2 linked regions of the Homo sapiens genome follow. The protein of the gene in region 1 interacts with the protein of each later gene in a pairwise test. Each region holds a gene or a part of one and is shown in the gene's direction. Other genes may lie near its edges. The genes, in order: IGSF1 and HECTD1.

Region 1 (8,643 bases):
ATTCACTTTCAAAGCCACATTTCTTAAGAGAGTGTAGATCTTATTTTTATAATTAATTGCGTTTTTGCCAGGGTGATTAGCGGAAAAGGAAGTAAAAATTTACGGTTGTACCAAGTTGTTATTATGTGTGTATATCTATAGCTATACACACACACACACACACACACACACACACACACACACACAGAATGCATGGGAAAGGATGATAAGGAAAGTTCAAAAAGGAAAATGGGAAAGAATGAAGGAGGGATAAACGGGAGGGAGAAAATGAAAACAGCAAGATAATAATTAAGCATGAGTTGGATAGGGAGACATTGAAATATGATAGATTAAGAAAAAAAATAATTTGTATTGTCTACCTGAAAGCAATCAATTATATGAACTTAACAGACTTTTATGGAGAAAGTATTTCCTCATCTTCTGTCAAGGGTACATGAATCTTTCAGAAAGTCTGACCATATCCTAGATCACAAAACAAGTAGAATTGGAAGAGATGCATGTATATTTAAATAATTGCCTGTAAACTGATGTTTTTAGGAACAGATTATAAACAGTTGGTAATATTGCAATGATGAGTTTTTAAATTGCTAATTTGTGTTGCTCTTGCAGTTTAGCCATCTTTACTTAATTTTAATCATATAATTGTTTAATCATACAATACGTAGGAATAAAAGAACCAAATTATTGACTTCTATAGTTTCCTTTGGACAAGTGATTACGAGTAAATAAATATTAGAGAGACCAGTTGTGCCTTCCCAAGCGGCATTCCCCCCTCCCCCCCCATCCCCCCACCACAACACACCCATTCCCACCCCTGCCCCACCATGCAAATGCCTACAATTTGGACACACTGGGGGCAAGTCAGACTCTGAGACAGAAAAAGGCTTTCCTGGCACTGGTATCTGGAAGCATCCTTCCTGGATCAGGCCTAAACTGCTTATAGAACCTGTGCCTGCCTGCTCTAGGCAGTGAGGCTGAGCCTACCTCCTTTCATTCTGGAGCCACCAACTTCATCCAACACAGGAAAAGGGAATACTGAAACACTTTGAAGCCCACTTTCGGAGCTCTCCTGCATTTTGGATATCTGTCTCTGAACACCCTCCCCCACCATGTACTCAGATACACACTGTTCCTCGTATAAACAAAAGCCATATTGTGATGCTAAGAGAATTGTCATTTGGAGACAGTGGACTAGTAGATTACCTTTTTTGGTAAATGGTACATAAACCAAAAAGAACTTTGTGATTCTGCTAACACTGAAACACACACACAAAAATCCTCATTTTCTCCCTCCACCCATTAAACTTGTTAAAATCACCTAGGTATTCACATTGTTGGTTTGCTTTGTGACAAGCACCCAGAAGCCTGATCATCCAGGCCTCTATCTAATGTCTAATGCCCCACTATGAGTGTTTTGATTAAATAAGTTTTAGTTCTAATTCATCACTTGAATTTGGTTTATTCTAGGAAGCTTCCTGCACACTCCTGAAAATGCCCTCAGTTATAGCTTCTGGAAATGACTTAGTGCCCCAAACTCTGCCCTTAATAATTAAAGTGCTTGACAAAAGATAAGTTGAAATTCAAGCTCTGTGAGTTGGCCCCAGCTTTCCTTTGCAGCTTTGACCTCCCCACCTCCAAAGCCTAACCCCCTCCTCATCAGGTCTTGCCGTTGGAACCTAATCTGTCTGGTTGGACCTCCTCCCTGCCCCAGAACGCCACTTGCTTAGTCCCAGCTGAGTTCCTCACTGGTATACTCCACATTGCTTCTCCATTGCAGAAAGGGATGGGGCCTGGGACTGGCTGAGGAGTGGGGTGGGATGCTAAAACACACAGTCAAACTTTGAATGCACAGACCTCTCCAGAGATCTGACACAGTCCTCAGATGGCTTACTAGAGTAGTGAGGTTGGGGACAGGGGAATGGAGCACAGTGCTCATAACTTTCTTGAGAGTGTATGAAACTTAACAGGATCCTTGAGCAGTTTGGAAACCTTCCTGTTTCCCAGTAAAAATCACTGTCCTAAAACATAAAACTGGAAAAAAAGTGGTTTGCTAGTAAATGTTTAAAAACAGCTCCAGAGATGTGAAGGTTGCTGGGAGAAACTTGATTTGTAGCATTTACTTCTTCAGTTGTGAAAATTCCCTGACTGTGGTGAAAATTCTCTGACCATGGCCACTTTCAAGCTACTACCATTATGTCATTGAATGCTGGGATGAGATAAGATGTGCACATTGGGTTCTCCTGAACCATACAGAGCTAGCCAACATCAGTACAACACTGGGAAGGGATCAGGTTTGCCCTGGGCTTCTCCTGTTTGGGATATATAAAACAGAGTTAGGTTTAAAAAATATCATCATCTTACATTAGACTCGCTTATGGAGAAAGGCTTCCCACAACACCCTGTGAACCTTGGTGCTTCACCTCTATCCTTCAAGCTCCACTTTCTTGAAGCTCTTCTATACTGTAAATGTTTTGAAAATTGGCATGGATGTTTTCACCCTGACAGATAATAACTATTACTGTTGTCTTCCAAACAACCATCAAGTTTGTCTAATGTTGCCTTCTCAATGTTTTGGGAACTCTGACCCTCCCCTCCTTCTCTGCTACTGCTCCCTAGTTTAGGCACACAGTACAAGCAAAGTGCTTGCAATTATCCAAACACATACTATCATGACTTACTTGATGATCTTTTCTATTGCAATCCTCTTTGATTCTCAAGGCTCCTCCTTCTCTGGCTGCCTCCTACTTCTTCTCTAGTATGATTTATCCTTAGACTACAAACTCCTTAAGAAGAGAAACTGTCATCCTTTCTGAACTGTCAGCATCTAGAACAATCCCTGACACAAAGAAAGTACTTAACATTTGTGTTGAATCAATGGCTGCTTGCTGTGTCCTAGGTGCTATGTGGTGGCTTACAGGAAGGTTTCCATTCAATCCTACCCCAAACCCTTCATTGTAGTAAGTGCAATTATTATCCCCATTTTACAAATAAGAAAACTGAGGCTTGGAGGCTAAATAACTTGCCCAGAAACACATCTTTTTATTCATATGCCTATTCTATTCATTACACAATAATCTATAGTTTATAATGGAAGCCACAATTGATATCACCTGATGCATGAAGATATGATAATCAATTTGGCTGTAAAAGAGCTGTTACTTTATTTTTACACAGTTTGTTCTTGAATTAAAGTGTTTTTCATTAGATAATTTGAAATCTTTTATGCAGGTAGAAAATGTACATAAAAGGCTGGGCATGGTAGCTCACGCCTGTAATCCCAGCAGTTTAGGAGGCTGAGCCTCCAGACCAGCTTGGCCAACATGGTGGGACCCCGTCTCTACTAAAAAATACAAAAACTAGCTGGGTGTGGTGGTGCGCGCCTATAATCCTAGCTACTCGGGAGGCTGAAGCAGGAGAATTGCTTGAACCTGGGAGGTGGAGGTTGCAGTGAGCCAAGATCGCACCACTGCACGCCAGCCTGGGCGACAGAGTGAGACTGTCTTAAAAAAAAGGAAATGTACATAAAGAAAAATTTGTCTATTTTTTAGCCAATTAGTCTATCATGTTGATATTTCTTATCAATTAGTCTGTGAGCCCATTGGATGCTATACTTTAATCTCATCATATGTTATATATCAGGAGCTTTGATTAGTGTCTTATTCATACATTATCATTATAAAAAGTCTTTCATAATCAACATTTGTGAAAGGTTGCTCTATATTATTAAAATCATGTTACTCTAAGACATTTGGGGAAGGGCTTACAGATTAATAGTAGTAGTAGTAGTGGTAGCAGCAGCAACCACTACCATTTATTGAGCACCTACTACATGCTAGGCCTATTGTGCTGTTAGTTTTACTTACATCATCCCATTGAGGCCTTGTGAAATAGGTTCTGCTGTTTTTTGTTTGTTTGTTTGTTTTTTACTTTACTGTTGGGGAACCTGGGACTCAGAGAGTTTACTCACTTGCTTGAGGTCACACAACTATTGAATGTAAAATGTGGACTAAAATATACATTTGTATGTCTCTAAAGCCTGGGCTTTTACCCCAAGATGGACTTTGAAGGCTGTCCAAGTTACTTAACCCTCTCTGAGTTTCCGTTTCCTCATCTGTAAAACTGAGGGGAGTAACACTTATTTTGCAGAGTTGCTCTGAAGATGAGAAATAATGGATCCCAGGGCCCAGGGGCACACAGTAGGCACTTAAACTGTGGTGATGTTTATGCATAAATGGGGCGTTAAAATGGGCAGGGGAAGATCTGAGATCCCGATAAAGGTATTGGGGAGCTGGAGAGAAGGATCTACAAATCTTCTTGAGAGCTGGCCTTCTCCCCCCCACAATACAGTGACCCAGTGAAACTCTGAGAGACAGGCGAGGGGGCAGGGGCCTGAATTTGGCTCCAGCAACCTCTGCAGGGAGTCCGGAGAGAGGCGGGGAGCTGGGAGGGGCGTAGAAATCCCCGTCGTCAGAGGACTGCAGGTGCCAGGCAGAGTTGGTGTAGGTGGGCTCCCCGAGCCCGGCGCAGGGAGGGGAGGAGGTTGGGGCGGGCCGGCAGGCGGGCGGGGGAGAGAGGAAGGCGGGGCTCAGAGCCGAAGAGGCTGTCCTTAGACAGCTCTTCTCATGCCGGGCAGTTTGCTGCATCTGGAGGAGCTCACTGGAGAATCTCCAACATCGGAGCGGGCCTTCAACTACCGTAAGTACCTACAAATGAGCGCATAGTTCAGTGGCTGAATATTAAATACTGGCCACCGGATCCTAAACAAAACCCCGAAAGAGTCTCCTTGCTGTAATTAATTGCCGTAAATCAAACTGCTCCCCAGTCTGTCCCCCCACCCGCTTCATTCCTGCCTTTCTCCTTTCCTTCCCGGATCCCAGACCTGCCTCGGTGAGAATCTCTGGGCACTGTAGATATCTCCCCTTTTCCTTCTCAGTCTTCCCTCCAAACCCTCAGCTGAGCATGTACCCGGCACCCCGCCGAGCCCAACCCCTTTGATTCCTGGAGCCCTCAAAGCTATGCAGGGGGCGAGCCATTAGACATTTCAGATATGTCACCCTCAAAAGCACTGCGGCGCTGCCTAAGGGTGGGGAAAGTGCTTGGGGTGGAGTAGGAGGGAAGGGTAAAACGGCTAGGCAGCCAAAGTTGGGGGTGGGGGTGGGGTGAAAGGCCAAAATGGGCGTGGCCAACTAACCCAAGGCTTGGGGCTGTTCTCATGTTCCCCCGGTATAAGATTCATCATCTGGGCTGAATATAAATGGTACAATTTCCTTAGTGATTGAGGAGGGGTCAGCCATGCCAAAAAGCCCAGCTTCCCTGACTCCCCTCAATCCCCCAGTAGGCAAAGATCCTGGTTTAGGGGTCCAAGTGGCAAGGCTGAAACCTCAGATGGCATTTCCTGGGTGTAATCCCAGGTTGAACCTCTCCCTTGGCAGTGGAACCTGGCTTCCCCCAAAAACTCCTGGCCCAAAGCCCCAGGGTAACAAAGCAACAGGGTAGCATCCAAGCTTTGGCCTGGCCCTGAGAGGAGTGGGAGCAAGGGACTGTAGGAACTGAGATGGAAAGGGCATCTTTAGGGCCCTACACCAGTTGGATGCCCCCTTTGAAAAGAAGAAAAAATAAGCATCTTTTTAAAATGTAATGTTCACTATGTGCCTGGCACTGTACATGTATTATCTCTAACCCAACACAACAATAATGTTAGGTCGATATTACTCCTCCACTTTACAGATAAGGAAAATTCAGAGTGGGTAATCTGAAAATCCTTTGATACAAAGTGAAAAATGTACAATGGACCTATGCTTCCTTGGATTTCTCACTGTCCACTTGTTCCCTACAGTCCAGATATTTTGAACACGAAATATCCTCCTCTTCCTGCTCCTCCATCCTACCCAGTGTTAGCACTGGGGCAAGTTTGAGGCTGAGGTCCAAGGTCAGTCTGGAAAAGCAAAATCAGTTCCTTTCTCTATTCTGGGAGCTGCCTCTTCCCCACTCTTCTGAGCTAAGATTTAATAACAGCTGGAGTCAGCCAGGACTTCAGACTCCCAGTAGAAAGTTGGTGGAAGAGAATTAGCTTGAGTTTGCGTGGCTGGGACATACCTTCCCTTGGTGAAAGGTTACTGTGGGGGGAGGTGGAGAGAGGCATGAAAGCTCAAGAGTCTACCTTGTGTATATGCAAGGCCTATGGTAAATAATGACTTTGGTCAGGGAGAATGGAAAGCCTCCCTGAACTCAAATATCTTTGCCGTATTTCCTGAGATTCAAACAATTCCATTTCCCTTAGAGGCAATCAACAAAACTGTTTAGAAGTTAAGGGCAACGAAAGAATCATTTAGACCTTATGTAAATTAACTCAAGCAGCTTGATTTTCTAACACATGCTTGACACTGGGGTATTGAGCTTTTAGGGGTAGGAGACAAGAATGAGAGTAATATTGGATCTAAAGCATTCTATGGAAGGGAAGGATATCCAAGGGATCAAGTGAGAGGGGTAAGGGAGGGTGAAGAGGGAGTGAAGGGTACCTCTGGGAGTTTAAATCATTGTTTTAGATCCATAGGCCTTGGAGTTAAACATGGATTCTAATTTGGGCTCTAATATTTAATATCTTTTGACTTTGGGCAAATTATATAACCTCTCTAAGCCTCAGTTTGTTCATCAGTAAAATGGGGATGGTAGTAATGCCCCCTCTCTTAAGTTGTTGGAGGACTCTCTCTCTCTCTCTATATATATATATACACACACACACACATATATACGTATATATATACACACATATATACGTATATATACACACATATATATACATGTATATACACATATATATACGTATATAAACATACGTATATATATATATATGCATATCTGAAAAGGTGACTCTGCACCTCCCATCTCCCCCATCCTGTGGAGCTTCTGCAGGCTATTCTGGGCTTCTGAGATCCCAGAGACAAATCCATATTTCAACAAATCTGACATCTTTGATACCAACAAAGACCTTGAGCAGGATAGGGAAGTGAGGGAAAGGAGCAAGGAGAGGAAGCAGCAGGTGACCTTGTAATACCCTGCATGCCTGTGAGGAAGTACAATGTAGGGTTGTCAAGTGCAATTTAGCCATCTAAACTAAACTTTAAGGAGCAGGACAAGTCCTCTGAGTAAAAACAATTCTGCTTTTAGATCCCACCACCTGCTGAGGAGAAAAATTCTTCAAGACTCAGAGCACACAGCCAGCACCAGAGGCCCCATGACCCTGGACAGACCAGGGGAGGGGGCCACCATGCTGAAGACATTCACTGTTTTGCTCTTTTGCATTCGTGAGTACAAGGAAGGGGTGAGGGGCAAGTGACCCTGTCATAGGTACCCACTCATTAGGGGTGGGAGAGGAAAGTATTGAGGTTTGAGCACAGGATGGAGACAACAAGGGAGCTCTCCTTTACCATAATCTCTCTTTTCAGGGATGAGTCTGGGTATGACATCAATAGGTAAGTGAGTCCTGCCCTCTCAGGCACCTCCTTCCTAAAGGATCCAAGATGCTGGCGTGTCTCCATGACCTTGGACATAATGCCTTGAGATTCCAGAGATAGATTGGGCTGATTGGGAATCAGAGGACTTGGTTTCCTATGGCATGGTGAAAAAGCTTTATCTCAGATGGAAAAGAGACCATCAGACTTTATTCTCCAATTCATTTGGACCCCTTGACAAAATATCTTGGGGTTCTTATACGATGCCCCACAGGAGCACACTCCTGTCCCCAAGGGAAGACAAAATGAGGGATCTGGGTCCGGGCTAATTTTAAGGGACATTGTGGGACATGTTATGGGAGGGAGAGGGTTGGACTGCTCATATCTTTTTGATCTTTGGGAATAACAGTGATGGACCCTCAACCAGAGTTGTGGATAGAGTCCAACTACCCCCAGGCCCCTTGGGAGAACATCACGCTTTGGTGCCGAAGCCCCTCTCGGATATCAAGCAAGTTCCTGCTGCTGAAGGATAAGACACAGATGACCTGGATCCGCCCTTCCCACAAGACCTTCCAAGTTTCATTCCTTATAGGTGCCCTTACTGAGTCCAATGCAGGTCTTTACCGGTGCTGCTACTGGAAGGAGACAGGCTGGTCAAAGCCCAGTAAAGTTCTAGAGTTGGAGGCACCAGGTAAGATGACAGTGATACTCAAGAATCAACTCCAGCTCCTGAGATTCAAACTTGCCTTCCAGGGGAGAGTTTGTTTCACAAATGCATGCAAGCATGCATCCCACAGTTAGTAAATAAGGGCCTACTTTGTATTGGGCAATGCAGAGGGGGGATGCAGACTCTGGAGCAGAGATAGGAGAAGGAGGGGTGGCAAACAAGGATCATACAGGGAAACCTCAATTAAAGTAGAGCTCTCCTCTGCTGCTCCCTAGACAGTACTATCCTTGCTTTACCTAATTCCAGTTCATTCTATCCTTCCAGGCCAACTGCCCAAGCCCATCTTCTGGATTCAGGCTGAGACCCCCGCTCTTCCTGGGTGTAATGTTAACATCCTCTGCCATGGCTGGCTGCAGGATTTGGTATTCATGCTGTTTAAAGAGGGATATGCAGAGCCTGTGGATTACCAAGTCCCAACTGGGACAATGGCCATATTCTCCATTGACAACCTGACACCTGAGGATG
Region 2 (8,442 bases), on another chromosome or scaffold:
TAACAAATTAACATTTTTTCTTAAAAATACTCCTTGAGGCTGGGTGTCGTGACACACCTTAATCCCAGCACTTTGGGAGGCCAAGGCAGGAGCATCGCTTGAAACCAGGAGTTTGAAACTAGCCTGGACAACATAGCAAAACCTTATCTCTACAAAAAATATAGAAAAAAAGAATCCTCCTTGAGTTCAGTGTTCAGTGCAGGCATATGTCTAGTGAATGACATTCACTTTTTTTTTTAAAGAATTGAAGCCTTATTGGAAATAATCACAAATTATATATGAATTAACTTGAATATCTTCATGTTTAGAATCATGTACAGAGAAATGAAGGATTCTGATAAAGAAAAGGAAAATGGAAAAATGGTAAGTTATTTTAGAACATTGGTTTACTCTTGGCTATTTAGTTAAAAGAAGAAAGATAGTAAAACTAACACAGTATTGCAGTTGAACGTTGAAGGGAATAATGACTAACATGGAATTCTTTAGATTAGACCAAGTGCATGATCTTAAAGCTACCTCATGTAATGCATGTGAAATATCATAGACTTTATAATTGGGAAAGGCCAACATTTGGTTTTTCCTGTTGTAGGGTTGCTGGTCTATAGAGCATGTGGAGCAGTACCTTGGCACTGATGAATTACCAAAGAATGACTTGATAACCTACCTGCAGAAGAATGCAGACGCTGCTTTCCTGCGCCACTGGAAATTAACTGGCACTAATAAAAGTATTAGGAAAAACAGAAATTGTTCTCAGCTCATAGCTGCATATAAGGTATATATTGGCATCAAAACACTATTTTGATTGCAAATGGCTTCGTGCTTTGTTTTGCAGCTTTGGAAGCTTCTTAAGGAACAGCAGTTCATTGAGACATAATTTTAAAAATGAGGTTGAATTAACACTGTTAATGCACAAATTCTAAAATTTCAAATATGGCTGGTAGCATTGGATCTGAATGCAGACTTTGACCATGGCTTAGAGTGGTTATATTTTATTTGGGAATTTTAATGGTTTAGAATGCCTTGATTTATGTCTTGTGTTATGTTTTTATTTAAAAAGAAGGCACTTTAAAAAATTCCAACCCTTTCATAGTGGTATTGATACAATGATACACTGTTTTTCTTGAAAATGTGATTAATGGCCAGTTTTTCTAATTGTTTCTATAGGATTTTTGTGAGCATGGAACAAAGTCTGGGTTAAACCAGGGGGCCATTTCTACTCTTCAAAGTAGTGATATTCTTAATTTAACAAAAGAACAACCTCAGGCCAAAGCAGGCAATGGACAGAACTCTTGTGGAGTAGAAGATGTCCTTCAGCTTCTGCGTATTCTATATATAGTTGCAAGTGACCCTTATTCAAGAATATCCCAGGAAGGTCTGTAAGAAGCCTTGTTTCATTTCTATAGCAGTTTTAAAGCAAGTCAGTTTATATTTTTATTAATTTTATTAATTAATTTTATAGATGGTGATGAACAGCCTCAGTTTACTTTTCCACCAGATGAATTCACTAGCAAAAAAATTACAACAAAAATATTACAGCAGATTGAGGTAATAAAATCAGACAGCTGAACTCTTCATTCTATTACTGTTGGACTTTTCCTAATATTCCCTTTACTTTCTTTTCTACCTCTCACCATCTTTCCCTTCCCTCTGATTGGTAATTTGAGCTATATGGTCCTTTGCATTTATTTCCTAATTACAGGTTTATAATTGACTTGGTAATTTTTAATAATTGCCTTATAGGGTCAGGTGTGGTGGCTCATGCCTGTAATTCCAGCATTTTGGGGGCCAAGGTGGGTGTATCGTTAGAGGCTAGGAGTTCGAGACCAGCCTGGCCAATATGGCGAAACCCAGTCTCTACTAAAAATACAAAAATTAGCTGGGCACGGTGGCACATGCCTATAATCCCAGCTACTTGGGTGGCTAGGGCAGGAGAATCGCTTGAACCCAGGAGGCAGAGGCTGCAGTGAGCCGAGATCGTACCACTGCACACCAGCCTGGGCAACAGAGTGAGACTCTGTCTCAAAAAAAAAAATGAACGAATGAATGAATGCATGCATGCATGAATGCCTTATAGCACTAAGACATTATTATTTGTTAATTCGCAGGAACCATTGGCACTGGCAAGTGGGGCTCTGCCAGACTGGTGTGAACAATTAACCAGCAAATGTCCTTTTCTAATACCATTTGAAACTAGACAGCTTTATTTCACATGTACAGCATTTGGCGCCTCAAGGTAAGAAGCCTTTTTTTTATGTTTTTAGAATAAGTATGCTTTTATGTTATGTAAGTTGAAAATGTACAACTATACTGTCAAGACTGATAGAGGGAATATATTATCTTGTATTCTTATAAAGAATAGTCAGCATTGCCTTTTGGCCTGAACTACCAATCTTCTAGTAATTCGCCAAAATGACTAATCCAAAGGAAAGGAGGAGAGATACCCGATAGATGTTTTCTAGGTCTTTTAGAAAACATGGAGTTGTTCCTTTGGCCACGTATATGCAAATCTAAAAGAGAGGTGATACTGTAGACATTAAGGGAATGGGTACTGTTCAAAAAGGAATGCCCCACAAGTGTTACCGTGGCTAAACTGGAAGAGTCTACAGTGTTACCCAGCAGGCTGTTGGCATTGCTGTTTTTTTGTTTTTGTTTTTGTTTTTGTTTTTTTGAGACAGAGTCTCGCTCTGTCGCCCAGGCAGGAGTGCAGTGGTGTGATCTCGGCTCACTGCAACCTCCGCCTCCCAGGTTCAAGCGATTCTCCTGCCTCAGCCCCACTGAGTGGCTGGGATTACAGGTGCACGCCACCACGCGTGGCTAATGGCATTGTTGTAAACAAACAAGGGCAAGATTCTTACCAAGAGAATTAATGTGCATATTGAGCACATTAAGCACTCTAAGAGCCGAGATAGCTTCCTGAAACACATGAAGGAAAATGATCAGAAAAAGAAGGAAGCCAAAGAGAAAGGTACCTGCATTTAGCTGAAGTGCCAGCCTGTTCCACCCAGAGAAGCGCGCTGTGTGAAAACCAAGGGAAAGAAGTCTGAGCTGCTGGAACCTCTTCTCTGTGAATTCATGCATAATAGTGTTTAAAAAAAATAGCCAGGCGCGGTGGCTCACACCTGTAATCCCAGCACTTTGGGAGGCCGAGGCGGGCAGATCATGAGGTTAGGAGATCGAGACCATCCTGGCTAACGTGGTGAAACCCCATCTCTACTAAAAATACAAAAAGTTAGCTGTGTGTGGTGGTGGGCACCTGTAGTCTCAGCTACTTGGGAGGCTGAGGCAGGAGAATGGCGTGAACCTGGGAAGTGGAGCTTGCAGTGAGTAGAGATTGTGCCACTGCACTCCAGCCTGGGCGACAGAGCGAGACTCCATCTCAAAAAAATAAAAAATAAAGATAAAAATAAAAGACCTCTGGACTGTAAAAATGTTTCTCTTCCTTGAGTAGAAGTGTGGTGTCCTCTCCCCCAAAGAAATACTTCAGGCAAATTTTAATTTTGTCCTAAGCCTAATTGTGTAATGTCTTTACTATTCAAATTTAATGTATTTCTTGCTGAAAGATGTGAGATGGCTTATTGTGCAACAAATTACTCAATTGGTTAGAAAATGGTCAGATATTATTTACGAAATATTTGTACTACTTTGAAGATAGTCCCTCTAATCATGGAAGAAGTAATTTACCAAAAAAAAAAAAGCATTTAAAAAGTTTCTGTTTTCAGGCTGGGCACGGTGGCCCATGCCTATAATTCCAGCACTTTGGGAGGCCAAGGCAGACACATCACTCGAGGCCAGGAGTTCGAGACCAGCCTGGCCAATGTGGCAAAACCCCATCTCTACAAAAAAACACAAAAATTAGCTGGGCGTAATTCCAGCTTTTTAGGAGGCTGAGGCATAAGAATTTGCTTGAACCCGGGAGGCAGAGGTTGCAGTGAGCTGAGATTGCACCACTGCACTCCAGCCTGGGCAACAGAGCAAGACTCATTGTAGGTGCTCAATAAATATTTTGTTGAATGATTGTTTACCTTAAGTACTCTTCCAAAATAGTTGTAAAAAAAAAGTTATAATTTAAACTGTTTGTTTTCTTCCCTGATAGTTACATTTTTGTACCATTTAATGCCATTTACAAAGCATTTATATACATAGAACTATAGGCATGTTGTGATAACTGGCATTGATTATAATTTGTTTTATAAATGAGGAAATTGATTCTGCACGTACTTAGCTGATTTGCCTAAGATCATGAGAAAATAGTAGCACACATGAGAGTAGAACCTTCAGCTTCTTATTCCTAATTGTCGGTTCTTCCTCCCACCATAAATGGATTGTTATTAAAAAAAAGAAAATGTGGCCGGGTGTGGCGGCTCATGCCTGTAATCATAGCACTTTGGGAGGCTGAGGCGGGTGGATCAGTTAAGGCCAGAAATTCAAGACCAGCCTGGGCAACATGGCAGAACCCCCATCTCTACTAAAAATACAAAAATTAGCTGGGCGTGGTGGCACACACCTGTAATCCCAGCTACTGGGGAGGCTGAGGCAGGAGAATCACTTGAACCCGGGATAGGGAGGTTGCAGTGGGCCGAGATAATGCCACTGTACTCCAGCCTGGGTGACAGAACAAGACTCCATCTCAAAAAAAAAAAAGAAAAATTGTTTTAAAATTATAATTACCGTTTTGATGGCGGCTTTCAGTTTGAAAGATAGCTTAATCATTTCTAAATTTCTCTGATAGGAAACATTTTTCCTTTTTTTGAATGATGTTGGGGCTTGGACAACAGATTATTATTTTTATTGAACTGCTAAAATAAGGAGGCAAAATATAGACCCAGTACTTTCTCAGTTTGCTTAAGGCAGATTATAATAAAAGGAGTTTCATATATTTTTACTTGTGACAGGAAGCAGTTTATGTAACAAAAAAAGATTACTGTGTTTTAAAAATCACCTGATAAAATACTATTTTTTAATTTCTTAAATCTTTGAATTCTGTTGCTGGTTTAGTAGTACATTCAGCTGTTAACGTATGCTGCAGCTCATAGATATTTTTCTATTTCAGAGCAATAGTATGGTTACAGAACCGACGTGAAGCCACTGTGGAGCGAACGAGAACCACAAGCAGTGTTAGGCGAGATGACCCTGGAGAGTTTCGAGTTGGTCGTCTCAAGCATGAAAGAGTAAAAGTTCCACGTGGCGAGTCACTGATGGAATGGGCTGAGAATGTCATGCAAATACATGCAGATCGGAAATCAGTTCTTGAGGTAATCTCATATAAAATTAGATTTAGGGAACAGGAATGACACTTAGGGAACCAGCCCAATGTGTATCTTCACTGCATTAAAAACTGTGGTAGGTAAACATGAAGAGGGGTTTTCCTGTTCTGTAGGCAGAAGCCTTCTCCTCTGGCAGAGCATCTTTTTCATAAGAGGATGTCAGTCCACCTCCTTAGGGGTTAGGTCTTGTGCCATTAATGAGCAACAAAGAAGATCTCCACTCTTGAGGTGGCAAAGTGCTTGTTCTGCTTGAGGGCTTCTACCCATTTCATAACAAAGTTGGACTAAAATAGTAGTACTCACAAGGGATTCTTTTTTACTTTTACATTAAACTGTGCTGTTTGATATTTTGGGAGCACCTGGTTTTGTAATATTGTTTCACTTGAATTGTGCTTGGTATTATATCACTGGTCTGTGTTGAGACATGTTATAGCAAATGGTAGTATGACATTTAATATATTTAGTTTAGAAATGTTACTGTGGACATTGTTGGTTTTATTTCATATACACAGTATTCCCTATATGAGGAAGAGTGGAAATACGTCTCCTGTCACAGGGGTGAATCCAACTGGTTTGTTTTTAACTTTTGGATCATAAACTAATTGCAAGAAATATGATACATCTCTAGAAGATGTCCAAGGCTTTACATCTTTCACTTTATATACAGACTTTCATTGTATTCCTCCTACCCTTATGTTCTTCTTCTTCTTTTTTTTTTTTTTTAATAGAGACAAGTTCTCACTATGTTTCCCAGGCTGGTCTCAAACTCCTGGGCTCAAGTGATCCACCCGTTTCGGCCTCCCAAAGTGCTGGGATTACAGGCTTGAGCCACCATGCCCAGTTGTTTACATTCTTCTAATATAGATAATCTTTTTTTTTAACCATATGCTGTAGTTTTTATTATACTTTATGCAATCACTTTAAGGGTTTTTGTCCATACTCTTCCTGTTGCAAAAATGATTTAAAGTGTCTTTAACTCAGAAATAAGCAGAAGAGGCGAGGCGCAGTGGCTCATGCCTGTAATCCCAGCACTTTGGGAGGCTGAGGTGGGTGGATCACCTGAGGTCAAGAGTTTGAGACCAGCCGGACCAACATAGTAAAACCCTGTCTCTACTGAAAATACAGAATTAGCCAGGCATGGTGGTGCATGCCGTAATCCCACCTACTTGGGAGGCCGAGGCAGGAAAATCGCCTGAACCCGGGAGGCAGAGGTTGCAGTGAGCTGAGATCGTGCCACTGCACTCCATCCTGGGCGACAAGAGTGAAACTGTCTCAAAAAATAAAAATTAAAAAGTGGAAGAGTCTAGGCTTTGGTGTCACACAGAGACACACAAAAGTCTGTTCACCATCATTTCTTCAAGCAAATGATTTAACCTCCTTATCTGAGATTTGGTTTCCTTTGGTGTAAAAAGGAAATAATTATTTTGCAGGGTTGTTGTGAGAAGTAAATGTATGAATGATGCTTGGCACAGTGCTTAAGCATGTAATAGTGTACAACAAGTGGACTCTTTAGGAAAATTAAAATAACACTTCTGTGCTGTTTATTATATATATACACTGCTATTTTGAAAAAAGGTACATTACTGGATCAGATATGATAAATTTTGACAAGAATTAGATTATTTTTAAAAACACCCCAAACTTTACGTTTAACCCACAATTTATTTGTTCATATTTTAGGTTGAATTTTTAGGAGAAGAAGGAACTGGCTTGGGACCCACATTAGAGTTTTATGCTCTGGTGGCAGCAGAATTCCAGAGAACTGACTTGGGAGCTTGGCTTTGTGATGATAATTTTCCAGATGATGAATCTCGTCACGTAAGAATATTTCTCATTTTGTGACTTGAGTTGTGACTCTGCTTTCAAAAGTGTTAAAAATAGGTTATGTGTTCAGAGCATAAGCCAGGTTTCTGACTCTACTTTTATTATTGAATAATCTTGATGCAATTAAAATAGTTCTAAAGCGATAAAATTTAGTCACCAAAAGCTATTTAATAAAATTATATACTTTTAGATAGCCAAATTCATGAAGATGTTTAATGTTTATGGATTTTTTTCTTAGATGATGATAGGCTTAGTTTCTATTAACTTTTGTTTAATTTTATTTGCATTTCACCCTCTAAAAAATTAGGTTGATCTTGGAGGTGGATTGAAACCTCCTGGATATTATGTGCAGAGGTCATGTGGACTGTTCACAGCACCATTTCCACAGGATAGTGATGAGCTTGAAAGGATCACGAAACTGTTTCATTTCCTTGGAATTTTCTTGGCCAAATGCATTCAAGACAATAGACTTGTGGACTTACCTATTTCTAAACCTTTTTTTAAACTTATGTGTATGGGTGACATTAAAAGCAATATGAGTAAACTGATTTATGAGTCACGAGGTGATAGAGACTTACACTGTACTGAAAGTCAGTCTGAAGCTTCTACAGAAGAAGGTCATGATTCACTCTCGGTAGGAAGCTTTGAAGAGGATTCAAAATCAGAATTTATTCTTGATCCCCCTAAACCAAAACCCCCAGCTTGGTTTAATGGAATTTTGACTTGGGAAGACTTTGAATTAGTAAACCCACACAGAGCCAGATTTTTAAAAGAAATTAAAGACCTTGCTATCAAGAGGCGCCAAATTTTAAGCAACAAAGGTCTTTCTGAAGATGAGAAGAACACAAAATTACAGGAACTAGTGCTGAAGAATCCATCAGGTTCTGGGCCTCCACTTAGCATAGAGGATTTAGGGTAAGCATTATATGTACATTCTTCAATCCAATGCATGAATAAGTTTTAAAGCTTTTGTTTCTTTGTCGTCACTGATTTGCAATATATGAGTAAATAGTCTGTCAAAAACAGTAATATGCTGTAGGAAATATTGATGATCGACTTGAACCTTTGATTTAATATTATAAAGACAACACTCAGAATACTAGAATATTAGTTTATTAATCATCAAACCTTTAGAAGATTACCTGACTTAGCCAATGTGAATTTATATGCCTGTGTAAAATGTCCAGAGCCAACAATATTTTGACAAATTCATCTGCTAATATATGATTCACTTTGCAAAGCTCAAAAATTGGTTGGTATGTCAGCTTTATCACCAAAGGCTGTAGCAGTTGAGATGCTGCAGAACTTTTGATAAAACTCTGTTACTTTATGTACAGGTAATTATCATATCTTC

What was found.
Region 2: the proteins of IGSF1 (region 1) and HECTD1 interact in a two-hybrid assay, tested with the Homo sapiens proteins (one study listed by BioGRID and IntAct).

The regions. Positions count from the first base shown.
Region 1 is NC_000023.11:131,285,266-131,293,908, reverse strand, and holds the start of IGSF1 (immunoglobulin superfamily member 1 isoform 1 precursor), read left to right. Parts: upstream 1-4,602; 5' UTR 4,603-4,695; intron 4,696-4,847; exon of another isoform or gene 4,848-4,887; intron 4,888-7,167; 5' UTR 7,168-7,234; coding exon 7,235-7,304; intron 7,305-7,445; coding exon 7,446-7,472; intron 7,473-7,860; coding exon 7,861-8,142; intron 8,143-8,442; coding exon 8,443-8,643. UniProt on the Homo sapiens protein: Seems to be a coreceptor in inhibin signaling, but seems not to be a high-affinity inhibin receptor. Antagonizes activin A signaling in the presence or absence of inhibin B.
Region 2 is NC_000014.9:31,106,207-31,114,648, reverse strand, and holds part of HECTD1 (E3 ubiquitin-protein ligase HECTD1), read left to right. Parts: intron 1-308; coding exon 309-363; intron 364-589; coding exon 590-772; intron 773-1,164; coding exon 1,165-1,372; intron 1,373-1,459; coding exon 1,460-1,545; intron 1,546-2,105; coding exon 2,106-2,233; intron 2,234-5,050; coding exon 5,051-5,252; intron 5,253-6,944; coding exon 6,945-7,082; intron 7,083-7,395; coding exon 7,396-8,003; intron 8,004-8,442. UniProt on the Homo sapiens protein: E3 ubiquitin-protein ligase which accepts ubiquitin from an E2 ubiquitin-conjugating enzyme in the form of a thioester and then directly transfers the ubiquitin to targeted substrates.